Linked DNA regions of Homo sapiens. The protein of the gene in region 2 interacts with the protein of the main gene of each other region in a biochemical or structural test. Each region holds a gene or a part of one and is shown on either strand. Other genes may lie near its edges.

The links.
Region 1: of the proteins of PTPA (region 2) and DTD1, one has a biochemical effect on the other in vitro, tested with the Homo sapiens proteins (one study listed by BioGRID).
Region 3: of the proteins of PTPA (region 2) and PRKCB, one has a biochemical effect on the other in vitro, tested with the Homo sapiens proteins (one study listed by BioGRID).
Region 4: of the proteins of PTPA (region 2) and SULT4A1, one has a biochemical effect on the other in vitro, tested with the Homo sapiens proteins (one study listed by BioGRID).

What each region holds. Positions count from the first base shown.
Region 1 is NC_000020.11:18,583,785-18,591,074, reverse strand, and holds the start of DTD1 (D-aminoacyl-tRNA deacylase 1), read right to left. Parts: upstream 3,022-7,290; 5' UTR 3,003-3,021; coding exon 2,960-3,002; intron 1-2,959. UniProt on the Homo sapiens protein: Possible ATPase involved in DNA replication, may facilitate loading of CDC45 onto pre-replication complexes. An aminoacyl-tRNA editing enzyme that deacylates mischarged D-aminoacyl-tRNAs.
Region 2 is NC_000009.12:129,142,415-129,149,437, reverse strand, and holds the end of PTPA (serine/threonine-protein phosphatase 2A activator), read right to left. Parts: intron 6,994-7,023; coding exon 6,886-6,993; coding exon of another isoform or gene 6,538-6,885; exon of another isoform or gene 2,052-6,537; coding exon 1,974-2,051; 3' UTR 492-1,973; downstream 1-491. UniProt on the Homo sapiens protein: PPIases accelerate the folding of proteins. It catalyzes the cis-trans isomerization of proline imidic peptide bonds in oligopeptides. Acts as a regulatory subunit for serine/threonine-protein phosphatase 2A (PP2A).
Region 3 is NC_000016.10:23,838,964-23,845,986, reverse strand, and holds part of PRKCB (protein kinase C beta type), read right to left. Parts: intron 6,390-7,023; exon of another isoform or gene 6,028-6,389; intron 1-6,027. UniProt on the Homo sapiens protein: Calcium-activated, phospholipid- and diacylglycerol (DAG)-dependent serine/threonine-protein kinase involved in various cellular processes such as regulation of the B-cell receptor (BCR) signalosome, oxidative stress-induced apoptosis, androgen receptor-dependent transcription regulation, insulin signaling and endothelial cells proliferation.
Region 4 is NC_000022.11:43,824,496-43,831,518, forward strand, and holds the end of SULT4A1 (sulfotransferase 4A1), read right to left. Parts: intron 4,704-7,023; coding exon 4,565-4,703; intron 3,146-4,564; coding exon of another isoform or gene 3,105-3,145; exon of another isoform or gene 3,019-3,104; intron 1,619-3,018; coding exon 1,506-1,618; 3' UTR 14-1,505; downstream 1-13. UniProt on the Homo sapiens protein: Atypical sulfotransferase family member with very low affinity for 3'-phospho-5'-adenylyl sulfate (PAPS) and very low catalytic activity towards L-triiodothyronine, thyroxine, estrone, p-nitrophenol, 2-naphthylamine, and 2-beta-naphthol.

The DNA.
Region 1 (7,290 bases), on a different chromosome or scaffold from region 2:
TCAAAGGGCTGGAAAAGACTGAGATGTTTGGTCAATTTTTCTACCTACTAGTGGCATCAGACCTGAGATCTCTACTTCAAGAATTCATAACCTTTGAAGTTAACCTAGTTAAACCCAAACATTTTAGATCCTCTTCCAACACTGTTCACAGACATCAAATTTTAGCTGCTGACAATGAATGATGGGACATGGGGGTTATTGCCCTATTCCGTCTGTTAATATGTTTGAAATGTGCCATAATAAACTTTTAAAAATTAGATTATCACAGTACCCAACCTAAGGCATCAAAATGTGTTTGATCAAGCTGGGTGCAGTGGCTCATGCCTGTAATCCCAGCACTTTGGGAAGCCGAGGCAGGCAAATCACTTGAGGCCAGGAATTTGAGACCAGCCTAGTCAACATGGCAAAACCCTGTCTCCACTAAAAATACAAAAAAATTAGCCAGGCACAGTGGCGCGCACCTGTAAGACCAGCTACTCAGGACACAGAGGCATGAGAATCGCTTGAACCCAGGAGGCAGAGGCTGCAGTGATCAGAGATGGCACCACTGTACTCCAGCCTCGGCAACAGAGCAAGACTCTCTCAAAACAAAAACAAAACCAATTAGCCAATTGGAGAAATCTGATGGACTGGGCATCAAATGATATTACAGGGTTACTATAAAAAAAAATGTGTTTGACCAATCACATAAATTGAATATACCACATAGTAAAATGTGTGACTCCTAAGCTGGACATAGCGGTGGCGGCACACGCCTGTAGTCTAACTACTCAGGATGCTGAAACTAAAGGATCACTTGAGCCCAAGCGTTTGAGGTTGTAGTAAGCTATAATAGTGCCACTGCACTCCAGCCTGGGTGACAGAGCAAGACCCCATCTCTAAAACAAACAAACCATAAATGCATAAATTTAAAATAAATGTGAAGTCAACCAACTATTTTAAAATAAAATAAAATGTGTGACTCCTGATAATCTATGCTGTCCTGACCATAAAACAGGAAGTTAACATTTTAGAACCCCTAAAATAAAATGCCATTCAAACACAGCCACATTTCAGTGAAACCAGCCACATTTTAAAGGAATCAGAAAATCCCTTTCCATTACAATGCAACTAGAAGGCCTGCATAAGTGGAGGGCCCTTCTAACAGAATTCCACAGTTCCCCAACCCAGAATTCCCGAATTATTTACACTTTCCCATAATTAACACCCTTATCTTTTTTAATATGCAGGTTTGGTTGTTTTAACTGAAAGCATATAACTTAAATAGTGAACCAAAATAACCCAAACTCTTATTCAGCACATCTCACAGAATACACATTTTCAATATTCCAGATTAGCAGGATGGAGAGTTCAGGAGAGAGATCAAAATTTAAATCTGTCAGTGACGACCACACACAGCAGCAGACTGCAAGGTTCTTCTCAATAATGCAAAACATCTTTCATCTATGAATTTTCCCAGTTTTCATGAATTTAAATATCTACAGAAATGTTATAAAAGCTTTAAAATTCCTAAATCCCAGTGCTACTCTATTCCCTATTATTCCAGGACCATTTCCAAAACCAAAGCTACCAGAACAGCTTAGAAATCATTAGGCGGGGTTGAAAAATAGACTCTTAGATTTAAATATACGGTTTTGGTGGGTTTGGTTGTTTCTTTAGGGTTTTTTGTTGTTTTTGTTTTGTTTTGTTTTTTGTTTTGGGGTTTTGTTTGTTTGTTGTTTTTTGAGACAGAGTCTCGCTCTGTCGCCCAGGCTGGAGGTTACTGGCACAATCTCGGCTCACTGCAACCTCTGCCTCCCGGGTTCAAGCGATTCTCCTACCTCAGCCTCCCGAGTAGCTGGGATTATAGGCACCAACCACCGCTCCCGGCTAATTTTTGTATTTGTAGTAGAGATAGGGTTTCTCTATGTTGGCCAGGCTGGTCTCGAACTCCTGGCCTCAGGTGATCTGCCCGCCTTGGCCTCCCAAAGAGCTGGGATTACAGGTGTGAGCCACAGCCCCCGGCCTGTTTTGTTTTTAATTCATACTTTTGTGGACACAAGAACGCATATTTGGTGCAGACTGGCTCCAAGGACAGGATATCTGAAATTATTTGAACTGAAACAATATAGTTGTGCCAATAAAGACAGAAAAGACTAAAGACAATATAAAGCTTGTCATTTAAATGTTTTTTAAAAAATATCTTTCGTACCGTGGTTTTCTTAAAACGACTACTTTATCTACACTAATCATCTGGACCTCTGATGCCCAACCGAGACGAAAGTGCTGAGTGATGACCAGGGGTCGGGTAGCTTGGTCCACAAGAAAAAGAGAAATGTTTTCATCTTGAATTCTTTAGATCCCGACCCCTCCGCGCAGAGTTCAGCGGGCGAGGGCGAGGGGCGTCCTGGGCAGGGGGCGCCCCTCATCCAGCCTAGGCTCCAGTCACGTACGTGCACGCAACTGTCAAAGCTCAGCCCAAGGAGCAACTCTCCGCATCTGTGCATTTCATCCTGAGTCAAGCCCCATAAAAATTGGAATACGTAAAAATGGGCAAAAATTGAACATTTAAAATACAGCAGTGAAAAGGGAGGAGTGCCTGCTCCGGAAATGCTCTAAGCGTGGTTCATCAACACTCCCTGAAGAGCGGACCACGGAGATGCTCCGAGGCTCCGCCATCCCGCACGCAGGACAAAGGTGCTGAGAATGAGGCGCGCTGGTCCTGCACCCTCTGCCGAGAGCCGGAAGCCAGGGGCGCGCCGGGGCCGGTCGGGCACGTGCAGGGGGCTCTCCGGCCGCCGCGCTGCCCCGAAGCCGGCCCTGGGGACTCGCGGCTGCGCGGACCGAGCTCGCGAAGGGGACCAGGCTCGCGGAGGGGCCGCAGCGGCCCCAAGGATGGCGCAGGAAGACCCCCCACGCAAGACAGCCGGTCGCGGGGGTCAGGGGCGGCTCCTCCCGGGCCCGGCCCCGCCCGACTGACCTGTGACGCTGGCCCGGGTGACGCGCTGCACCACGGCCTTCATGGCGGCGGCTGGGGCGAGTGGGGCGGCGCCGCGCTGCGTCCGGCCTCGCGACTCTGAGGGCGGCTCCGCAGCCGGCGCCCTCTGGAGGTGACACCCGGAAGCGCGCCCAACTGGCCGGTCCGACTCGGTCGGCTGCTACCCACCCCACGTCGGCCACGCCCACTCTCGGCCTGGCGATAGGCCCACCCACTCATAGATTGACTCCGCCTATGCCTGCCACGCCCACCTGCTGCCCAACCGTAACCCCGCCCGTCATTGAAAAGCCCAGTCCCCACGCTCGGCCCTGCCCCATCCACATCTGGGTCCCGCCAGAGCCCTTTGATCCCCCCATCCCGGGCCCAGCCCCTACCCAGTGCCCAGAACCCACTCTGCCCCGAAGGTAGTCTCTATGCTGGTTTTTTTCTCCCACATACCCGAACCTAAGAACCCGTCATCACTAAGCCTTTAAATTCAGCCTGAATCCTATTTCTAATTGTATTCCTCTTTCCTCTTCCACTCCTCTGCACGCAGATCCTCCCAAATTCTTCTTCCTTGTCTTCCTGCCTCAGTGGCTTTTCAGATACCACATACAAAAGGATCTGCTGCCTAAAATAGCCATTTACCTATCTCACTATTAATTCGACTTAGCCATGTCATGATAATAAATAGGTATGTGATTCTAGAATTCTAATTTCTCATGTAATATAAATGCTACTAATTGGCCCCCTCACTGGGTTGTTAGATTTAAATGAACCAAACCACGTAAAAGTGCTTAGATGGCAGCAAAGGGCTGTACAACTATTACCCCAACAAATTATTATCATTGCTAAAAATAATTCCATCTCAGCAGTCTTCACCTTAAAGGTGACTAATAGCATTGGTGGGCGTAGAAAAGGCACTGAAATTGAGAAGAAACCCTCACTTGCCCAGAAAAGACTACAAACTAGTGTGCTTGTTTGTTAAATACTGAATACTAAATTGCCTTAATAACGTTGTCAAAGTTAACATAACCAGTAACAAGACATCATGTGCCTCCTGATATTGCACTGGGAAGGACACAACATCAATCTTGTGGTATTTCTGCCAAATAATGTATAACCTGAATCCAATCATGATGAAACATAGGACAAAAATAAATTGAGGAACATTCTACAAAATAACCAGGTAGGATTCCGAGAATTAAGGAGGATTTTTTTTTTTTTTTTTTTTGAGATGCAGTTTTGCTCTTGTGGCCCAGGCTGAAGTGCAATGGTGTGATCTTGGCTATCCACAACTTCTGCCTCCTGGGTTCAAGCAATTCTTCTGCCTCAACCTCCTGAGTAGCTGGGATTACAAGCATGCGCCGCCACGCCCGGCTAATTTTGTATTTTTATTAAAGATGAGATTTCTCCATGTTGGTCAGGCTGGTCTCGAACTCCCGACCTCAGGTGATCTGCCCGCTTTGGCCTCCCAAAGTGCTGGGATTACAGGCATGAGCCACTGCGCCCAGCCGTGGACTTTTTAAAAGACAGGAAAACTACCTGTAATCCCAGCACTTTGGGAGGTCAAGGTGGGCGGATCATTGGAGGTCAGGAGTTCGAGGCCTGCCTGGCCAACATGGTGAAACCCCGTCTCTACTAAAAATACAAAAATTAGCCAGGCATGGCAGCGCATGCCTGTAATCCCAGCTACTCGGGAGGCTGAGGCAAGAAAATTGCTTGAACCCGGGAGGCGGAGGTTACGGTGAGCCGATATCGTGCCACTGCACTCCAGCCTGGGTGACAAAGCAAGACTCTGTCTCAAAAAAAAAAAAAAAAAAAAAAAAGACAGGAAAACTAAATTAACCTGGGTGGTATCCTGGCCAGAAAAATCAAGAAAAGGAAAAGCTTATTATTGGAACAACTGGTAAAATTTGAGTTTTTGAAAAATCAGCAGGTCTCAATATTTTGATCACAGGATCCCTTTACATTCTTAAAAATTATTGGGCACAAAGTATAGCTTTTGTTTAGGTGGATTATATCTAAAAATGTTTACTGTTTTTAACTAAGAGAAATAGTTAACATGGATTTATCAATGCATTTAAAAATAGCAATAATAAATCCCCTACATATGAATATCAGAGCAATGAAGTCACTATATGTCACGGAGCCCCTGGAAAACTCCATTGTGCACTCCTGAAAGAATAAGACTAAAAAAGGGAAAATTGGGCTGGTCGTGGTGGTTCACGCCTGTAATTCCAGCACTTTGGGAGGCTGAGGCAGGTGGATCACTTGAGGTCAGGAGTTCAAGACCAGCCTGGCCAACATGGTGAAACCCCATCTCTACTAAAAATACAAAAATTAGCCAGGCGTGATGGTGGGCACCTATAATCCCAGCTACTTGGGAGGCTGAGGCACAGGAATCACTTGAAACCGAGAGGCGGAGGTTGCAGTGAGCCAGGATCACTGCCACTGCACTCCAGCCTGGGTGACAAAGTAAACCTGTGTCTCAAAAAAAAAAAAAAAAGTTAACATACTTAAAATGGAATTCAAAATGTTCACCCCTATGGTACAATAAAGACTTTGGCCTTTGTTAATTCTGGGTTTCTGGCATGGAGCTTTAAAAATTCTTGGAATTTCTCAAGAGACAGGAGTATCTTTGTTATTCATGAGCTCCTTGATTATTCCTGAGTTTACTAACAAGACAATTCAGATTGGGAGCTGGTCACTGGAAAGACCAATAGTGACTGGATGTCTGAGCCAGCCCAACCTGTGGGAGGGGTAGAAGACAGAGATTGAGTTCAACCTGTGGCCAATGATTCAATCAGTCATGCTTACATGATGAAATCCCAGGAAAGACTCTGGACATTGAAGCTTCATTGAGCTTCCTGGTTGCTGAACACATTGATGTGCTGGGAGGGTAATGGCCCTGATTCCGCAGGGAGAAAGCACAGAGGCTCTGTGTTTGGTACTCTCGCAGACCTTGCCTAACATATCTCATTTGACTGGTCCTAATTTGTATTATTTATAATAAAACTATAAATGATAATTACAGCACTTTCCTCAGTTCCATGAGTGATTCTAGTGCATTATCAACCCTAGGGAGTCATGGATACTCCTGACTGTGTAGCCAGTTGGTCTGAAGTGCAAGTGGTTTGGGGACACCCAAGTGTGGTTGGCACCTGAAATAGGGGCAATCTTTTTGGGAAACGTACCCTTAAACTTGCAGGATCTGTTCTAACTCCAGGTGATTCCTGCCAGAGTTGAACTGCAATTCACCAGTTGGTGTTCAATGAACCCCGAAGCCCTTCATACTCCACCATAAGAGTCATACCTTTTTTTTTTTTTTTTTTTTTGGAGACAGAGTCTCGCTCTGTCACCCAGGCTGGAGTGCAATGGCTCGTTCTGGCTCACTGCAACCTCCACCTTCCAGGCTCAAGTGATTCTCCTGCCTCAGACTTCTGAGTAGCTGGGATTACAGGTGCTGCCACCATGCCCAGCTAATTTTTGTATTTTTAGTAGAGATGGGGTTTCACCATGTTGGCCAGGCTGTTCTCAAACTCCTCACCTCAAGTAATCCGCCTGCCGTGGCCTCCCAAAGTGCTGGGATTACAGGCATGGGCCATCGCACCTGGAAAATCCCCACTTAAATAAGTGGCTCCACTTGTTTACTGGAGCCAGAAGTAACCTGTGATTGCTCTCTTCCCCATTCCCTAAGTATCTCGTCCATCAGCAAATCTTCTCCCTCTCCAAAACCTATCCCAAAGTGCCCTCTTCTCTCCATCCCTCCTGCAGCATCCTGCTCCACCATTCTTTCCCACTTGGATTTCTACCACACCTTCCTCACTGGTCTTCCTACCTCCCCTTTGTCCTTCTCCAATCCATTCTCCAGGCACAGATGAAAGTGATGCTCTTAGAATATAAAGTCTTAACAATCCAGACTCTGACCACCTTTAAATTCCTCAAATAGTCTTTGGTTGCTAGCTCAGGACTTTAGGATCTGCTCTTGCTCCACCTGGAACAGGTAGGTTCCTCTACATTCATTCACTCTTTGTACAACACACTCCTCTCCTGCCTTTAGGTATTCAGCTTCAATGCCACCTCCTCAGATAGACCTTCTCTGTCCACACCAAGAAAAGTAGGTGTTCCTGCTCCCTGTTTTTCTCATGTTTGTCCTGTGGGTTTTCTCTCATAATCTTCTGGCTACTTTCAATGAGTCTATTTGCCTGGTAAGCTGTGTTCTTCTACCTGTGTCTCTCATGCTTACCACTGAATCCTCAGCATCTAACACAGTACCTGGGGCTCAGGTAATATTGCCAAAGGAATAAGTGTGAGAAGCCAATTTTTTGGCT
Region 2 (7,023 bases):
GCCCCAGAGACCCTCAACTCCAGCCCAGCAGGGACAGGAGGGGCAGAGGAGGGAGAATAGAGGGCCACCCCCTCACAAACCACAGGTGCATGTTCCACTGTCAAAGCCCATCCAAAGGCTCCCTGGCCAGCTTGGGGCTAAGTTGGGAGTCCAGAGGGGCCCCCTTCACCAAGCACAGCTGCAGTGACCACCCGGGATATGCTATGTGCCAGGCCCTGAGCTGAGGACTTCACATCTGCTGTCCACTGCTGGCAGTCACCCTGTGACTGTCCCCATTTTGTGAATTGAGGAAGCTGGGGCTCAGGGGCTTCAGTAACTTACAACCTTGCAGCTGGGACTGCAGACAGCTAGGATTTAAACCCAGGAAAGGCTCAACCCAAATTGAAACAGCTCGTCTCAGACACTGTGGCCTGAGAGAAGGGGACCTGATGGAGGTCAGTCATGCAGAAATGGGTTAAACATGTGACATGAAAAGACATACCTCACACAAGTGACAGGTGCAAAACAGAGGCTTTAATCTGAACAGCAATGAGGGTGCAAGGGGCTGGGAGCCCATAGGGGGATGGGGGAGCCAGGAAGGGCTGTCTGGCCCTGGGAGAGAGGTGGACGCTGGGCCTCTTCTGAGAAACTGTCACTGACCTTTGGGACTCCTGACCCAGCCTCTGCCCAGACCATCACCGGATCCCAGGCTGAGCCCCTGTGCTGTGCTTCTCAGTGCTCCCCCTTCCTGAAGGGTGTGTGGACCCAGACACAGGAGGGGGCAGTGGAGAAGGGCAGGCCTGGGGGACGAGCCTGTAAGAGCCAGGCCCAGGAACAGCCCTAGGAGAAACCTCGGCGGTGGCCCTCAATGGGCCTGCCCAGCCCCCACTGGGCCCATTCTGAGTGCCAAAGCCTGGGCTTGGGAGGCTGTCTCTTACCTCACCCTATAAAAGCAATGGACAGTTCAGGGAGGTGGGAGGACAAGGTGTGGGACTGCCACCTTCTGGGCCCACCCATCACCCAGGGGAGCAGAGAAGCAGGGCCCAGGGGCCCAGGGTGAGGCTCACAGCAGCGCAAAGGTAGCAGAAGTGGCCGGGCCTAAGACTGCCAAGAGGAATCCAGGCTCTCCAGATACAATGGGCCCCAAGCCCCTCCCTGAGTTTCTGCCATCCCCTCCCTGCCAGGGAAAGTTCTGGAAAGACATGCCTCACCCCATCATCTGGGCCCTCCCAGGAGCCCAGCACCTACCCAAAGGGCAGCTTCCATTGGCTAGGTTACCCTTAGGGAGCGGGAGAGATGTGGCTACAGTCAGGAAACCCAGCAGAGCCAAGGGCTAGAGAACTGAAGAGCCAGGGGGAGGCTTGGACACAGGGGGCCTCAGGCCCAGGGGGCAGGGTGAAAAGGAGCCTGGGAGGGGCACCAGCCAGGACAGCTAAGGCCTCTCCACCACCCGACCCCACCCACCCCACCCCAGCCCACAGCTGGCGGCCAGCCTCAGCTTCCAGCCCTACCATAGATGGCCACCCCGGCATGGCCTGGGAAACTGACCCGCCCCTGCAAGGAGCAGCTCCAACCCTTAGAAAGGCATCGACTCCAGGAAGGGAAAAGCAATGGAAGCAGCAGGTATCTCTCCTCCCTTCCCTGCGGTGCTGCAGAACAGCCCCTGCTCTCAAAACCAGACTGGACGGGAGTGAAGGGAGAAGAGGCCAGAAACAGGAGAGAGTGGCCGAGTGACCAGGCCCCAGACCCTCTCTTCTGGCCAGTCTAGCACACGGGAACTCAGAAAACTGGCTACACTTTGGTCACTTCTCCCAACTTGGGCCCTGAAGCCTTATGCTCTGAGCCCCCTCAAGCCCATCTCGCCACCCCACCCCAGTAAACAGCCTCTCATCAAACGGGACGAACAGAGGGAGGGGATGGGGAGGGGCCACTGCTGGGGTGGGGAAGGCAGGCACAGGAACTGTGGCCTGGGTGGCTCTTCGGCTTGGCCCCTCCTAGCCCGACGTGACAGGATGGATGGGCAGCAGGCTCCCGAACTTGAAGTGCTGGATCACAGGGAACTTCTCCAGGCACTGTGAGGAAGGAGCAGGTGAGCAGAGTGGTGAGGGCCACACCACACCCCTGCCAGGACCCCAACAACCGCAGCAGCTCCCAGGTGTCCATCCCGGGCCCAGGAAGTAGCCCCGCCAGGGGATCCCCCAGGCCTTCCTCCCCCAGTTCCTCACTCCTTCTATCCAAAGACACCCACTCCACAACGAGACCCACGAGAGAGAGAAAGAGAAAAGGCAGCCCAAACCTACAAGGTAGAAACCGAGAAGAGAGGCAGCCAGGTGCCATCACTTGGCCCAGAGAGGGAAGTTGGGAACCTGAGGTGGAAAGAACCCTCCTGATCACTGGGGACCCCCAGCCCAGGTCCCAGTTCTAGAGAAGAGACGTGGGGACATTTGAACGTAAGCCTAAGAGGCTGAGGCCGGGTCCCAAAGCCTGTTTTCTCCAGCTTTCAGTTCTCTGGACTGAAAAAGGCATCTTGGCACTTCAGAGCGAGACAATAAGAACCAGCTGACACTGAGTTCCCCCCACCCCTGGGCAATTCCCAGCAGCCTGTGTGGGGGGCAGGGGAAAAAGAGCGCTGAACAGGGGAATGGCTGAGCACGGGGGAGGCCCGACTCCCTGAGCCCAGCCCAGCCCGGGCTCCTAGCAGAGGAGCAGAGCTGGAGAGCAAGTGACAGGGCCTATCACAGAAGCTGGCCTGGCCCACAGGCAGCCAACCCCAGCTTCCAGCTGCAGCTCCCGCAACAGCACCCCCATGCCTGCCACACCTGGACACTAGCTCTCACAGGAGCCGTTCTGGGCATGCGAGGGTTGGATCTGCCAAGACTGACCAGGGCCTCCTCCCACACCTTTGGCCACAGAAAACAGAGTATGTTAGGCACCTCCTGGCTGGGGTGGAACAAGACTTATGGCCTCAGAGAGAGTAAGAGCCTCACTCTGTGGCTGTGATCTTAACCTCCAACTAACTTAGAGACAAACGGGTGCTATGACTGGCCCAGGTTCCCTCTCCTCAAAAATCAGCTGTGGAACCTAAGAGGGAGAAGCACCAGGGTGACGAGTGGGCCAAAGAGGCGCCAGGAGGGGAGGGAAAGAAGGATGGAAACCAAGCTCATGGTGGGGTGGGGAGCAGAGCCCTGGCCACAGCCAGGATCCTGGGCCTGAGACACAGAATGCGGGAGCAGGGAGCGGGAGGTGGTCCCTGGGCGGGAGGGGGAGCAGCCGCAGATCCAGGCCAGAGGCCAAGGCAGCTGCCATGGTGCTTATGTCATCCCAGAAGTGGTCATAAGAGCCCCCCCACCCCCCAAGGGCCCTGGAATTCCAGAAGGGGTCAAAGGTCAACCTCCCTCTAGCTCCCATAGAAGAAGTTGCAAGGCGAGAAGGGGTGGAGGCAGGGGTTCTTCCCATTCTGCCCACAGGACCCCAGAGCCAGCCCCCTCAGAGCCACAGGAGCTGGGCCAAGGAAGCCTAAGGCTCCAGGGCAGGAGGAGCCTCCAGCCCAGCCTTTCTCCCAGCAAGGCCCTCCCATGTACCTGGGCGGAGCAGCGGCTTCAGACTGCCCCCTGACCTTCCAGCCAGAGGTGATTCAAGCTGGGGAAGGGACTCCCTGGGTCCTGACAAGGTCCTTCTGAAGGCAGCACCCACACAGCCATGGCCCAGAGGAAAGACAGACCCTCCCCCCCGCCGCCCCGCAACCACACAAGGCCCCTGAGAGCACTTGGTTCTTCGGTCAGAAAGGCTGGGACAGAGCAGAGTTAGACCCAAATCCTGAGGCCACCTACTGCCAGGCTGGTCAGACTTCTGTGGCAGCCCAGGAGGCTGACTCCCCTCAATCAACCAGTTCTGACTGGAGACCCAGCCTTCCTACCCACCCCTGGACTGCAAGACTGGCAGGCCTTGGAGGGCCTCCTTAGGGGCTAAGAACTGGCCTGAGAAAACAAGCCCTCTCCTTGGACCTCTGTGTAGGCAACATGCCAGCCCATGGGCCCTTCGGGACCAAGGACTAAGGGCTAGTTGCTAGTAAGTTGTCAATGAGTGTTGAACACTGCAAAGACTTGGTGATCTTTTTTTTTTTTTTTCCTGAGATGGAGTCTCGCTGTTGCCCAGGCTGGAGTGCAGTGGCATGATCTCGGCTCACTGCAACCTCCACCTCCCAAATTCAAGTGACTGTCCTGCCTCAGCCTCCTGAGTAGCTGGAATTACAGGTGCGCACCACGATGCCAGGCTAATTTTTGTATTTTTAGTAGACACAGTGTTTCACCGTGTTGGCCAGGCTGGTCATGAACTCCTGACCTCAGGTGATCTACCTGCCTTGGCCTCCCAAAGTGCTGGGATTATAGGCATGAGCCACCGCACCCAACCAGTGATTTTTTTCTTTGAGACGGAGTCTCACACTGTTGCCCAGGCTGGAGTGCAGTGGTGTGATCTCAATTCACTGCAACCTCCGCCTACCAGGTTCAAGCGATTCTCCCGTCTCAGCCTCCCAAGTAGCTGGGACCACAGGCATGAGCCACCACACCCAGCTAATTTTTATATTTTTAGTAGAGACGGGGTTTCCTCATGTTGCCCAGGTTGGTCTCGAACTCCTGGCCTCAAGTGATCCACCCACCTCAGCCTCCCAAATTGCTGGGATTACAGGCAAAGACTTGGTGATCTTTTTTTTTTTTTTTTTTTGAGAGAGTCTCGCTCTGTCGCCCAGGCTGGAGTGCAGTGGCACCATCTCAGCTCACTGCAAGCTCCACCGCCCGGACTCACGCCATTCTCCTGCCTCTGCCTCCCGAGTAGCTGGGACTACAGGCACCCGCCACCACGCCCGGCTAATTTTTTTATATTTTTAGTAGAGACGGGGTTTCACTGTGTTAGCCAGGATGGTCTCGATCTCCTGACCTCGTGATCCGCCCACCTCGGCCTCCCAAAGTGCTGGGATTACAGGCGTGAGCCACCACGCCCGGCCTGACTTGGTGATCTTAAAGTCAGGGAGTTCCAGCGTCACCCTATACAGGAGCCTGTCCCCTTCCCCACACAGCGCCGGCCTCAACTAGGGCTAGAATCTCCCTTTTTCAGATTACTAGAGAGCTCCCCCATCCTGAGTTGGTCATTTTCAGTGTCCTCTTTGTGTTTGCCACCCTGTGCTCAGCCCCCACGGAGACCCCGACAGCCTGTGCAGAGTGGACAGTCCCTGTGTTCCTGCCACACCATCACCATTTTCAATCCGAATATGCTCCTCCCTCATCCTCTGGCAGCCTGGAGTTCTTTTGTCTCTGGAAGGGCAGGTGAGAGAAGGGGACAGGGTCTCTTGCCCTATCCTTTGGGCCTTAGAGCCTGAGTCGAGAGAAGTTTAGAGTCACTTGAATTAAGAGGCTTGTAGAGAAGACAGTACTTCAGGTACCAAGCAGAGAAGGCAGCCAGAGTCCTCTCTTTGGCACACAAGGGTTGGGGTTGGGAGGTGGCTGGTGGGCGATGTGCACCTCTCACATGCTCAGACACCCTGGAGGCGGGGCACAGCAGAGTGAGAGTTCCCCAGCAGCCCCCACTGTGGGACAGGCGGGGGTGGGGTCAGGAACATCAGGACACCAGAGGGCAGTGACCCAGGGCAGAGTCGGAGTGGAGAGCCGGGGGTGGCCAGCTGCAGCCGGAAGGAACCTAGGCAGCTCCAGCCAACGGGCTCTCAGGCCTCTCAGATTAGAGAGGTATGTGGGCTGGAACCTAAACACAGGATGTGAGGTCCAGAGGAAGGGGACCAAAGGGGGAGGGGGCGGAAGGGAGTGAGGGCCCGGTCTGTTCAGTTCAAGCCTCATTAACCCCTTCAGGACCAAGTGCAGGGAGCCAAGCCAACTGGAAGCATCTGTGCTCCCCCACCCCGCTGGCCTCTGGCACCCTTCCCCGTTGTCCCGCCTCTGCTGATGGGATCCAGGAAGCTCTGGGTCCAATGAAGACCTGGAGCAGCCCCTTCCCAGAAGAGAAGGCCGGCCAGGAGTCAAGAGATGGTGCCCACAGTACAGTGTCTGAGGCCATGAACTAGTCACAAGGGCCAGCCTGAGAACAGAAAGAAGGGACTTTAAGGACCCATCACTCCAGGTGTGGAACTTCACATCCAGCCCTTCCCTGGCCAAGGTCAAGCAGTTCTAGAATTAGTCTTCCCAGGAAGTGGGAGGAGCTAGCAGAAGGGACAGAGTAGAAATAAAATGTCTCCTCCCCACTTGGAAGAGAGAAAAGGCCACCTCCTTGGCTGGGAGAACAGTGCCAAGAGGGCAGGAGACACCCTCGGCTGCCTGCCAGCAGGGGGAGCTCCAGGAAGCCTCAGCTCTCCTCTCCTCAGCATCTGATTTGAGAGCAGGGAAAACCATTTGCATCAAAATCCCTGAAGCGGTCCATAAAAATGCCAATTCTCGGCCTACCCTCAGACCTCCCACCACTCAGTGATCATACACACTAACATTTGAAGGCAGCACTTTGGAGATGCCTCCAAAGGGTAAGACCCTTCCCAGGTATGCCATGGGAGAGCCAGACTCAGACTGCCCGAGCTTTGAGGAGCCTTTGGCCACTTGATAAAGGAGAAGGGAGGCCCCCATCGCCCCCACTCCCCATGCAGCAGGTCCTTGCCTCAGCCTCCAAGCTCATCAGGACAGAGCTGGACTGCAGCTTTTCGGGGCTGGGGTGGCTGGTGCTTCTCTGACTGCCCATGCCCCAGATGGGAGATTCCGAGGCCCCAAGTGTCAGAGGGGCTGGCCTAAGATTCAGAGCAAAACAGTGGGGTAGGAGGAAGCAGGAGCCCCAGGTTCCACATCTTTTGCTTTGTCCCCAGCCCAGGACCAAGTGCGGCAGCAGGGACGGGCACACTGGCCAGCCCCCACTCACCTCGGCCTTATACATGCGGATGAGACCCTGGTTCACTTTGGACCAGGAAGGGACGGCGCTGATGTTCCACAGCTGGTTGGAGTGCTCTGCAAATGGGCCAGTCTTCATCTGAAAAAGAGAAGCCACAAGCTGAAGAGA
Region 3 (7,023 bases), on a different chromosome or scaffold from region 2:
CCTGAAAACTGACTTTCAGCTCAAAATGCCTCTCACTGAAATGCCGTGCTCTCTCTTTTTATTTATTTTCAATCTATTGGCCCAGACTTGCTCCTCCACCTCTGAAATTGTCTGATTTTTCTTCTTTAGAACAGCCACCTCAAACTGTAAACCCTAAACAAAAAGGAAGTCAGCTCATTATCTGAGTTATTAACTAAGAGGAGATGAAGTTCTCTGTCAAACTGGGAAAGAAGCCATCTCAAGGTAACAGGCTAGTTCTACCAAATACTTACTCATCTTACTTGCAGCCATGATACAAATAAATATTTACGGTTTCTCCATAGAATGTCACAAAGATAAGTCTCCTGCACATATTTTGTTTTGTTTTTAATTGAGATAGGGTCTTGTTATGTTGCCCAGGCTGGTCTCGAACTCCTGGCCTCAAGCAATCCTCTTGCCTTGGCCTTCCGGAGTGCTGTGATTACAGACATGAGCCACTGCCTTCAGCCCTGTTGCATATATTATCCAGGATATGGGCAGTTTTACAATACAGATTTTTAGCTCTAGTTCCTTGACAACTCAGACTTTCTCCAGTTACCTCAGAAAATGAGAATGAGAAGTTGGGCTTTTTTTTTTTAATTCCCAGACCACTGACTGCATCCCCAGCCATTACATAGGTTAGCTTCCCATTATATATTCTCCCGGTACCCAGTCCATTTTCTTCAAAGTACCTAATAAAAATGAGGTTAAATATGAGTGAAATGATCTGTAGAATGTCTTATCTCCCCCCGCTACATCATAAGCTCCATGACAACAGAAATTTTCTCAGTTTCATTCACCATTGTATTCTGTCACCTAAAATAGTTCCTGACAAATAGAACTTGACACATAGAACTTAATCAGTGAGGCCAGGTGTGGTGGCTCACTCCTGTAATCCCAGCACTTTGGGAGGTTGAGGTGGGCAGATCACTTGAGGTCAGGAGTTAGAGACCAGCCTGGCCAGCATGGTGAAACCCTGTCTCTACTAAAAATACAAAAATTAGCTGGGCGAGGTGGTGGGCACCTGTAATCGCAGCTACTTGGGAGGCTGAGGCAGGAGAATCACTTGAACCTGGGAGGCGGAGGTTACAGTGAACCAAGATCGTACTACTGCACTCCAGCCTGGGCGAAAGAGTGAGAGTTTGTCTAAACAAAAAAAAGAGACTGGGCGCGGTGGCTCACGCCTATAATCTCAGCACTTTGGGAGACCGAGGCAGGAGGATCACAATGTCAGGAGATCGATACCATCCTGGCTAACATGGTGAAACCCCATCTCTACTAAAAATACAAAAAATTAGCCGGGCGAGGTGGTGGGCGCCTGTAGTCCCAGCTACTCGGGAGGCTGAGGCAGGAGAATGGCGTGAACCTGGGAGGTGGAGCTTGCAGTTAGCCAAAGATTGCACCACTGCACTCCAGCCTGGGCGACAGAGCAAGACTCCGTCTCAAAAAAAAGAACTTTTAGAAGGAGAATGGAGTGAAGGGATGGATGCATGGATGGACAAATAGATAAACAGAAAAACGGATGATGAATAGAGAGGTGGGTGGATAAATGGAGGGATGGATGGATGAATAAATGAATGTATGTGGTGAATAGACAAATTTCCTACTGGATTTTCAAGCAGCCATCACACCTCCAAATGCCATATGTAAACACTGTGGATGTTGTATTCTCTGTAAAAAGGCTAACATTCTATCTATGGAATTTCACACAATTTCAATGAAGAGATTGGATGAATGAAGTCAAAGAATTCATGTTATTAGAGCAAATGCCAGAACATAAGGGACTTACCTTTGAAGGCGTCAGAGACAAACTTTTCAGCAGATCCCCCTATCTACCCAAGAATTAATTGAACTGCAGAGTTAAAAGGCCAGACCATATATTTTAAATTATACTTAGTAATTTAATGACCTGTATCTGAAAAGTAGCAAAAGAAGATGCGTATTGTGAAAATTATAACATATTGATCTACTTACATATATGTGTGTGTATACACGTGTGTGTGTGTGCATGTGTGATGGAAACAAAGAGACAGAGACAGAAGGATAAGCAGAGACAGAGAGAAGAGAGACCCCAACAGTACAAATGTGTATAAAATTATTTTCAAACCTTCAGTTAATCTTTTGACCAATTGCCTTCTTCTGTATCTTCTATTTTTTTTTTTTTTTTTTTTTTTTTTTGGCCTAGATACACTATAAACATGCTGCATCTGGTTGTGGGCAGTATCTCTGGAGTATCATTAGTGCTTGGAAATAATATATTTTTTAAAAATTATATCCTAAGAATCTATATATCATATCAGCTAGATTTTCAAAGGTCATATTTTCCATATTTACTTAGAAAGGCATTCTGTTGCCCAGTGACAAAGCTTCAGACTCCTCCTGAGTGCTCTACAGTGAAAAATGAATTCGTTGTTGCCTCTCCAACAAATCAGCCCTCCTTTTTAAGACTCAATGTTAACCCACTCAAAGATTCTTATTTCGATTGGGACATTGAGCCTGAAATCCCCCGTCAGGTGGTAAAAAAAAGAAAAAAGCCAAATCATCAAACACGAAGTCAAAAAGCCTCTGCCTTTTATTCACAGAGAAGCCCGCAGGACACATTTAGAATAAGCTAAAAGGTGAGTGGAGTTTGGCTCACAGGTCTCTGGGGTCTGCTTCTGGGAAGAAAGAGAAGTGAAACAATAGAAGTAACCTCTAAACTTGCAGCCTGACTTGGTGATTTTTTGAAAAAATGGACCTCTTTATGATTTTACTAAGAAAATTCAACCTGAAGTGCATGGGGCCATATTATAAGTTTCTAGGGAACACTGCCCAAAATAAAATTAACTTTTGATTCATTTTTTGTTATATAAATACACATATGCTATGCTAATCTACACATGTTAATTACCCACTAAAATAAACTTTATATTTGATAGGGTGAATATTGATAAAAACAAGAATGGTTGGATTCATGTCATGATTTGGGGTTTTTTAAGAATAATTTCAACTACAAGATTTAAAAACCTGTTTTCTAATCTACATGGGAAAAAGAAGAGCTGACTTACTCATTATCATCAATTCTAGCTTTCCATAGAAAATAAAATTAACCTTTTTTGTGATATAAAAAAGTGCAAACTTTTCTAGTCTACATGTGTTAATTACACACTAAAATAAACTTTGATTTGATAGGATTGATATTGATGAAAACAACAATAGTTGGAGTCATGTCAGACTTTGGGGTTTTTTAAGAATAATTTCAATTAGAAGATTTAAAAACATGTTTTCTAATCTACATGGGAAAAGGAAGAGCCAACTTACTCATTATAATCATCAATTCTAGCTTTTCATAGAAAATTTGTACACTGGGGTTTTTCTAGAGAGTCCATGGCAAGTTCAGATCTTTCTCAGAAGAAAAGACAATGCTAACCAGGCATGGGTTTCTGGGCCCAGACACTGAACTGAGCACTCACTGGTGTTACCCAATACCCAGGAAGAAATATACCCAAGAAGAGAAACTATCTAAGTACATGAAAGAGGCCTAGTCATTTAACAAGTTCCAGAATGAACTCCGTCCCACTTTGACACAGTTTCCTACAGCTAATCAAGTAATACTGATGGTCTCACTTAGAGTCATTGATACTTGCTGTGGCTATTTCTCATGCACCACCTCATTATTCTTCACCATAACCCTATGAGTTAGGTGCTATTATCCCCATTTTACAGATGAGGAGACCAAAGTTGCTGCTGGGGGACGACTTGCCCAAGGTCACACAGGGAGTAAGCGGCTCCATCAGAGATACATACCCAATTCTACTGGACTCCAACTCATTGCTAAGAATTCTGAATCTCTATATTTTATTGCCTCTCTATTTCTACCAAAGTCACTTCCTTTACAAAAACAACAAACACTTTGGGAGGCCAAAGCAGAATGAGACTCCTGGCTTGAGGCTGGCAGTTTGAGACCAGGCACAGGCAGCAAAGCAAGATCCACTATCTCTACAAAAAATTTTAAAATTAAAAAATATGTATTTGGCCAGGTTCAGTGGCTCACACCTGTAATCCTAGCACTTTGGGAAGCTAAGGCGGGCAGATCACCTGAGGTCAGGAGTTCGAGACCAGCCTAACCAACGTGGCGAAACCCCACCTCTACTAAAAATATAAAAATTAGCCGGGCATGGTGGCACGTGCCTGTAGTTCCAGCTACTCAAGAGGCTGAGGCACGAGAATCACTTGAACCTGGGAAGTGGAGGTTGCAGTGAGCTAAGATCACGTCACTGCACTCCAGCCTGGATGACAGAGTAAGACTCCGTCTCAAAAAAAAAAAAAAAAAAAAAAAAGGGCCGTGGTGACACACACCTGCAGTCCCAGCTACTCAGGACACTGAGGCAGGAGAATCACTTGAGCCCAGGAGTTTGAGGCTGCAGTGAGCTATGATCATGTCACTGCCCTCCAGCCTGGGCCACACAGTGAGACCCTGTCTCTAAAAACAAAATTTAAAATAAAAGAAGAAGGTTTTTCTCTCTACCAAAAATCTTCTTAGAGAAGACTTTAATTAAAATTAAAGCTCAAATGCAGGTCCTAAGTTCCTGTAAAGAATGCCACAGAAACAGCCAGCACTGTAGCTCATGCCTGTAATCTGAACACTTTGGGAGTCCGAGGCGGGTGGATCACCTGAGGTCAGGAGTTCAAGACCAGCCTGGCCAAAATGATGAAACCCCATCTCTACTAAAAATACAAAAATTAGCCAGGCGTGGTGGCAGGCCCCCGTAATCCCAGCAACCTGGGAGGCTGAGGCAGAAGAATCGCTTGAGCCCCAGGAGATGGAGGTTACCGTGAGTCGAAATGGTGCCACTGCACTGCAGCCTGGGCAACAGAGTGAGACTCTGTCTCAATAAATAAATAAATAAATAAAAGGCAAAGAAAAAAATGCCATAGAGAGAAATCTGCCTTGCTTGTCAAAGGAGTTCCACTTCTACTCTAGAATTTAGGCAATTTTACAATAGGGATCTTCAGCCCCAGTTCCCTGTCATCAAACACATTCTTAAATTACCTCCCAGAGAGTGGTTTTATAAGAAATAGACAGAGTGGAAACAAAAAGGGAGAAATTATGAGGCAGTCAACCTAGAGTTTCGTCCTATCATCATACGAAAGCAAGAAAATCTATTCTTAAGCTCCCCTGAGCACACAGAAATCCATAATTTCCCAAGGTTTATGAGTTTTCCATCCTTCCTCTCCCAACCCATAGCAGTGTCCCCAATTTCCATGACAATGTAATAGAGCCTGAAGGTTACTCTCAATGGTTTCTTTGCCTTGCGATCATCCTACACACCTCCTACCAGAGTGGCAGAGACAACATCCTCTCTCTGCTTGTATTTTTGAAATGGAAACATCCTCTAAATAGTGGCTGCCTGAAATAAACACTACATTTCCCACATGCTCCCTCACAGCAAGGTGTGGGTATGTGATTAAACCCTAGCTAAGAGGATGTAGGTAGAAGGATCTTGAGCAACTTAAACAAGTGACACCGAGCATGTGCTATATGCCCTTCTTTACCCCTTTCTTCCTTCCTGCTAGCTGAAAGAAGGGTGTGAGGACTCCAGCGTCTAGCATCCTTTTTGGACCATGAGATAATTGTCACTCCCCAGGGATAGTGGAGCAGAAAACTCAAAGGAACCTGAGGCCCTGGGCTCTGGATTGCTGACTTAAGTGAGATCATAAAACCTTATGTGTTTTGTATAAACTGTTGATTCCATCGTAAGTGGATTTACTTTCAGAGGAAATATCTGATACCAAGAACAATCAGATACTAAGGAACTCCTCAGTGGTTCCAGAATTAGTCCCAGGCAATGCTGAGTACCAGGGATAAATTTCCCTCTTTCCTATATGTTCCCATTCTAAACATCTCAATTTCAGGGACTGCCAATCTGCCCCTCCCCTCACTCCTCCCTACTGCTGCCCAAATGGAATATGCTGTCAAAGCAGCTACACAGAGTGACCAGAAGTTCATGGCTGAGTTTTGACTCTTACCTGGCAGGCAGTTCCATAGCAAAGCAACCCTGCAGAGCCAGTCTTCTCTCGTGCCAGCTGCCCCACCATTGGGGTAGTCTGGGGACAATCATAAGAGCAGATATTTTCTGAGCATACTCTGTGTCAAGCTCTGGTCCAAGAATCTTGGATATTGCAATGAGTTGGAGCTGCTCAGCCACACTATGGTACTGTTACTGACTCCGTTTTATAGACAAGGAGGCTGAAATACAGAGAGGCTAAGTAATATGCCTGGGAAGTCTCAAAGCTAGGATTCAGACCGACAGGGACTTGCCTGGTAGCCTGTGCAAATGCCCACTTCTCTACGCTGCCTCTTGGTGGGGAGGCAGGGAAGAGAAAAAGAAAGGCAATTTAAAAAATAGACACTCCAGAGGGGCATAGTGGCTCACACCTATAATCCCAACACTTGGGGGCTGAGGTGGGAGGGTTGCTTGAAGCCAGGAGTTCAAGACCAGTCTTGCAACATCACAAGACCCCTTCTCTACAAAAGTTGTTTTAAAATTAGCCAGGCATGGTGGTGCGTACTTGTAGTCCCAATTAATCAGGAGGCTGATGCAGGAGGATCACTTGAGCCCATGAGTTTGAGGCTGCAGTGAGCTCTGATCATACCACTGTACTCCAGCCGGGGCAAAAGAGTGAGACCCTGTCAAAAAAAAAAAAAAGACACTCCTATCTCTAGAGCGCCCATATTTCATTACAAACTTTAATTCTGCCTTTTTCTCTTAACATCAGAAAATTCCTATTATCTTCCAGACTTTGAGTTAAAGGATCTCCTATTTCAAATGTGTCATGCCTTGCACATTCCAAAGTGACTTTCCCATCCATCAATAACAGCAGAGCAGGTGGCATAGAAGATCCGTGGTAAAAATGTTTAAAAATCGCCCCCGATCTCAGCAAGAGACAAAGACTGAAACTGATTCATGGAAGTGAAAGGCAACCTCAAAGAAGAAATTACACATTCCGGTGCCAAGACACCAT
Region 4 (7,023 bases), on a different chromosome or scaffold from region 2:
CGCTCGACGCAACGCCGGGAACATGTCTTTATTAAAGATGCAAGCAAGCACAGAAGGATCATGTGTAGTGCTCAGTAACATCCATACAGTACTAAAAATAGAAAAATATAAATGAAATTTCACAGAAAGCAGCCTCCCTCACAGAAACACAGGCAAGGTGCTGCCGAGCCCACCATGCGATGCCACGTGCCACCTGCCTGGCCACGCTTCTCCCCATTACAAACAAAAACACAAGCTTCTCTCTACACCCGTTTCAAATACAGCACCAAGAACGGAGACCCCTTCCACAGCAGCGACCCTCCTGACCACCACTTTGGGTGCTTTCCAGCCACATAAATGACAGACAACCCCGGTCCCCACGGGGTTGGCTGGCTACTGGCCCCCGACTCTCCATCGCTTCAGCGAATGTGGGTGAGAAAATTAGGCAGTGAAGCAATAAAGACCTCACCTTTACTCCCTCAGATACACGGAGGGATGAGGTGGACAGACACGCAGGCGGCCGTGCCAACCTGATCCGAGTGAAACAGGGCTACACTCGCAAAATGGTCCTCCCACGGCTGAGCGCCTCAGGTGCACAGAACAAACTGAATGATAAAGACCCGGGGATTTTAGAAATTTACTATTAAGCATCTGCTTGCCAGCATTAGTAGGCTATCACTTCAGGAAACAAAGTAAGGCTGTGGAATTCAGCTCAAATTCCGAGCGCAACTCGGTCCTTTGGTGGCCGACTCTCCACCCACTGCATGCAAATGCTCCTGACTGCATTAGACTCCCACCTGCCAGCCTCACCAGGCAGACTTCCCTCAGCACATGCTCCGCGGGCTCCTCTGCATTGGGCCTTTGGAGCCGCCCGCTGGAAGTCTCTGGCAGAAGGACGTCCATTCTGAAGACCTAGTGAACAATTTCTGCTCATTTCAGGAAGGTTCTGAAGAAGTGAACTCCGTCAGAATAAACAAGTGTCCAGATTCCCCCCAACAGACCCAACTCATCCTCTGTTCTCACCACTATCTCAGAACCAAGTGAGAACAGAATGGCTGTGCCTTAGATAATAAAACTACAAAAATAAAGAGTTAACCCTGAGATCTTTCTACCATTCGGGTGTGGCTCGCTCCTGATTCCCCTTGGAAATGAACTTTTATTTGGTTTACTGACATTTATGTAGATTTCCAGTGAAAAGCTCTATAAAATACAATAATACGGGGTTGAAAAGGCAGACATTCTAGTTGCATATATTACAGGCTTTATCCTTACGGTCCAGGCCATTGGAACTGCAATGTGGAGACTGTTTGTAATCAGACATGGAGAGGCTGCACGTTCTAAAGGCGAGACAGCTGCTTTCGGTTGGGAATCATCACACTCCCTCCGCTCACGCCGCTCTTCCCTTCCCCCGCTGTTTCACACGCTGCTTCCAGAGTTTGTCCAGCAAGGAATAAATGAATGCATACAGGACTTTTGGCTAGTAGACTGTCTGGGTATTGTGAGCATGCAGGTTGTTGTTTCTGTTATTATAAATAAAAGTCAAACGTGAGGTCACACTTTCCCATCTTCTGTTTATACACCAAGTCAAACTTCTCATTCATGGAGACGGTGAAGATGTCCTTCCACAGCCCAACTCTTCCTGAAACGCAAACAAGAGAACTGCTGGGGCCACTTGCTGTCCGGCCAGCTACTGAACTAAAGGAAGCCTTGGAAATGGATCTGGAACATTCCAGATCTATTCCTGGATCCCTTTGAACTTGGCCTATGGGGGCAGGAAGGGCCGTCTGAGCTACAGACCAGGTGGTCCCCTAACATTTGTGAAACTACTGGATGCGGCAGAACATGACCTGAACCAGCTTCCCTCTGAGGCTGTGGCACAGTGAGCCACAACCACCTCCTGGTGCCATTCCACACCCCCCGCTGGGGCCCACCAGGGAGACTCTACTCCTGTTCAGTGCTGGGTCCCCAGCACCTAGAACGGCACCTGGCACGTGGCAGGTGTTTAATAAACATCCCAGGAGCGAGTATGATCTGCCGCGGGAGTGCACTGCTCTGGGCATCACAGGCAGCCCTGGCCCTTCCCACGCCATTATCCACTCACAGCTCAACAGTGCCACCAAGGCGTCATTGGCTTCGGGAGAATTTGAAAAGGAAAAAAAAATCATTCAAAGTGCAGAAAATTTTACACTAAGTAGGAAGCCCTCCTGACTGGGCCAAAGATGCAGATTTCAAGAAGCCTGCCCTGGCAAACCCTGGGGAGGAATTTAAAGTGAATCAAATAGTCGCAGCATTAGCTAGCTTTACAGACTAGATGCAAAACATGCACTGCAGTGAGAATTCCCTGAGTCAACAATAAAATGAGTCTGGGCACAGCCCCCAGCTGCTCTAGCCCAGGCTTAGTCAGAAACCCAGACCTCTTCCTGGCAGCCACAAGGGAGGGCTGAGCTGTGGGATAAACTGCAGGCACCGGTCTACGCTGGTTTATGAAGGCTTTGGAAAAACGAAAGACAGCTCAACATGACAAGAGAAGTTGTTGCTCCCATTGTCTTTGTTAATATAAAATCTTAGGTTGGTCTAGTCCAATAGCAACGGTGACCGTGAAGATGTCTGGGGCGGGGATTCCAAACTTCCCAGTTATGGGAGCTGTGAGCACATCACCCGAGTACTGCCTCCCTGCTTTTGAAGAACTGCTCGTTTAGAATTCTTTCCATTGTCAGCTCTCTGAGATCAGAGCTCTGTCTCCAGCAAATGTCCTTCACTAGCTCCGTTATTAACAGCGGTCCTTGTCCAGGCAGGACCTCAGGTTTTTCAAACTGCAACCCTGCAAATGCTGAGCTAAAATACCCAACGTAACACGGACTTTCTCTTTGGTAACAAAAAATTATCAGTGTTGGAGAGAAAAACAAGAAAAATTATTCTTGTAACCCTTTAATGATACCTAAGGGGCAAAATTAGAAGCTGCTAGAGCAACCAAACTATTTTTCCATGATTATTTTTCTCAGCTGAGACAGCTGAGAGCTCGTCAGAGGAGTCACCCACCTGGTTTAGGATTTGGAATCAAGACAATTTATGCTGTGACATGAATCAAATCTAAGCAATGCAGCTGGCTACTCGGCCCTGCATTCTCACCAACTCAAGAAGATCTTCCGAGCAAAGACGCAATGTGCTAAAAGAAAACAAATCAAAGAACTGAAATAAAGCAAAACCAAGGTAAACCATGATAAAGCAAACCCAAGGGAAGGAGCATATGGGCACACAGTATGTTCTCGACGCTGCTTCACCACACACACACACACACACACACACACGTGAACCAAAAGGGGTATTTTGGAGAAGGTCACATCCAAGGATAACAAAACACAGCAAAAGCAAAACTAAAAAAGAGCAAATAAATGTTAAATAACAAATATTTATGAAAATGCAGCCAGGAAAGAAGTCGAGAGGGACTGTGGTTCAGTTCACTTCCTCCTGAGGAGTCCACTGCTCTGCCTTTATAAGAGACGGCACTTTGCACTTGACCTTCAAACCGCCCTTAGCCGTGATCAGCCCCTTTTCAGAGAAGAACAAAAAGCCGCAGAAGCTGAAGGCCTGACCTATGTTGCGTTCCCAGAGGGCAGCAGAGCTGAGCTGGAGCCCAGCGCGTCTCTCATCCGCCCCAGGCATCTCCCACTCCATCTTGTGGGGCTGCTGCTGAACAGAGCCATCCACGTTTCTGGGCCCTCCCTGCAAACATTCTCAACCCAGGAAGTGCCCAACACACCAAGTGTCCATCAGGTTCATACTTACCAACAGGGGGCCTCCTATGGCCAAGGCCAGCACCCTGGGATTCAGGGGTTTTAGAGCCTGGGCTCTCCATCATCAAAGCCAAATGCCACACACCCTTAAGGACAGGGGGAGCAACCCAGGTGGATCTGGGGAGGATTCCTGTCAGGAACACTGTCCCCATCTCCAGCTGCCTCATGCCCACTGTCACTTGCCGCCAAGAGCAGGAACTGGCCTCCCTCTGTGCAGCGGCTTAGCTTGGTACTGTCTGCTTAAGTTCACCACCCCGAAGTGGGGCTAGGCCTCACCTGTGCTGCCTGCACCCAGAAGATGCTCAGTCAGCGTCCACTCAGTGAAGGAAGAAAAACGGTGTCTCCTAACTTCCCGCCCACTTCATTTAACTCTCCCACAAGTCAGTTAGAGACTGAGAAACCCATCAGCATGCTTTGCGCTTTGACATGTCATAGCACCAAACCCAGTCCCTGGATCTGCTCTGTGGGGCGTTTGATTTCAGGCCATCTGAGTAGACTCCCTGCTGAGAAACATCCCGCCCACAAAGCCTGAAATGCACTTTTTCAAGTCAAAACACTGTTTGCTTGGAGGCAATGCAAACACCAGCGGGCAGGGTACTCCGTCACTCCATGAGCACTGTGCCATCCATGGGCACCAGCTAACAGAGCACAGGCCATGGGCCAGCTACAGACTGCTGTAAAAGGAGAGCAGGGAGGGCAACAGGGACCGGACTCGGCTCCCTAAGCAGGCAGAGAAAGCAGCCTGGCTGGGGTGGGGAGTGCCTGGGCGGGAGGCAGGGTGGGGCACGTACCCCGGCCCACGGGCAGGGCCTCAGCGTTGCAGCACTGGTCCACCAGCTGGTGGCAGTGCTCCGTCAGGGCTTCCAGCTGGGCCTTGTCACAGGACACCCCCAGGAATCTGGCCAGCTGCTCCACCATCGTCACCAGGTCCTGGAAGACAAGTGCAGAGAGCAGAGCAGCCCATCAGAGGCGGGGCCTTTTACTGGACACGACCCCAGGCTGGGCACACGCTGAGGACTTTTTACACACGGCCTTCCTTACTTAATGCTCACAAGGCTGACATCAGCCTTGTCCAGAAATAACACTAAGAGGTTAAGAAATCGCCCAAGTGTGCTCAGCTCTCACGTGGAGATCTTGAATTCAAACCCTGGTCCTCCAGGGAATTGGGTTGCAGACATGAGGTCTTAATAGAGGTGTGGTTAAGTTTTAACAGGAGCAAGAAGTAAAAAACATATTTCAGAACATGGTTCTTGTGAGGAGCAAGACCTAATGGGCTCCTCTTTCCCTTCCTGCTGCCTGTCAGCTGGCGTCTGGGCTGGCCCTTGGGAGCGCAGGGAGGCCCCTCTGGTCTCCAGATGGCCCTGCACTGGGCAGGGAGCCCGCTTCATCACAGGCAAGATTCCGTCATGCCTGCCATACCCTGCCCCATTATTTTACCACGCCTGACAGCGGAATGTCACTGATGTGGCTAACCGTCTTGAGGGGGCCATTCCCCAGCCCCCCACCCCTGCCACTTTCTCCCCAAGAGATGAGGCTCCTCGTCTTCTCAATCACAGCCCTGAGCTGTCACCTAGAGGTGCCTTGGTCCCATTAGGAAGATGCTGGAGGCTGTTTCCTCTCTGGAAGGTTTGTAAAGCAAATTCCCGCATTAAAGCCTCTAAAAAGTCCTACAGTGAAAAGATGATTTAATTTCTTTATTGCAGCACTTCGGAAACCTTAAAAGACAATGTTCTCTGACCGCTGGTGTGGGAGTCAGCTGGTGTGGGCGCCAGCTCCTCCCTGGGTCCCCACAGTGCGCTGACTCCTGCAGCAGCGGTTGCAGGTCTGATTCTGGCCTCGCACTGCCTTCCACAGGCAGGGGTGTGGTGCATCCCGGGCGCAGGGCTTGACTCAAGAGTCAGAGGAACAGTTATTAGAGAATGAGCCAAGGAATACAGAGCTCCCTTTCCCTTGCCCTGCCACCAAGAACTCCATTTCAAAGAAAAAGGGTAGCAATGGAGAAAGAGTGAAGAAACCTGGCTCTCAGAAGAGATGCCGCAAGAAGGACACAGCTGGCTTAAAGTCAGCCTGCTGGAGCGTTCAGCAGAATCCTCGTGGGGCAGCTCACTGCGGCGTGACGTCCATCTCAGAGGAAGGGGCGTTTCTGCCAGGCTACATCCAGCAACATGTCACAGGACACTTGCTGGTTATGAAACCCAGCAGGGATCAGGCAGAACGCCCAGGTCAGCTGGCAGGAACGGCCCACTTCACCTCTCTGAGCCACACATTCCCCATCTGGAACTAGCGACAGGGCCGCAGCAAGAGGCCGCACACCACGGCACGGAGCCAGCGTGTTGGGGTCGTGCCTCCACATGGGCAGGTACTAGCTGGCCACACGGTTGCAGTCAGGGCACCCCGTGACTGGTGAGAACACCCTGCAAGATGACTGAGGATGAAGTGGGAATATACCCGGGGTGCCTGGCACAGTGCCCGGCTCGTGGGAAAGGGCCACTGTAATTGCGGTGCAGTGGAGCGCAGGCAGTGAGCGCTCTGGCAGGAAGCATTCCCTCTCAACCCCAGGGTGAGAACACATGGACCCACACCACAGTCCTGGAGACAACCATGCTCACTCGGGGCTAGTTTTCTGGAGTAAGATGTAAACAATATTAATTCCTAAAAATGTGACTTGACCTCCATTAAAACAAGCCATTACTGAGGTTCCTAAAAAAAGAATAAACCCATGCCAATTAGAAGGCGAAACGCTGACTGTCCCAGGGATGCCATTGAGTCACAGACCGGCTTTGATAGAAAATGAAGTCCCAGCACTGACCCCGGCAGCTCTTAAAGTTCCAGGCAGGGCTGGTGGCCTTGACCCTGACGGACTGAAAGCAACAGGTCTGACCACTTTCACTGGGGAGCCTGGAAGGCAGAGAAGGATGAACTTCCCTTTAAGGGCTTGGAGTAAAGTGTGTGTTTGGACCTTAAAACTTCAGTCCATCATTGCTGAGGAAACTGAAGCTCCAGGAAGAAACTGCTGACCCGGCAGCTGCCCCCGAGATGTGTGGGCAGCTGGCCAGCTGGGCGCTTTCCCTATTCACCTTCTCATGTTGGGGCCTCAGTGGCCCTGGGCAGTGCATGTTCAATGCTATGTCATTGGTGGCAAAATAGTGACCAGCTGACAAATGCACACCCAGGACCCCAGAAATTCCACTCCTGGGTATGGGCCCGATAAGCACAAGTGCTGACGTCCACCAAGACTCCAGAACGTCCA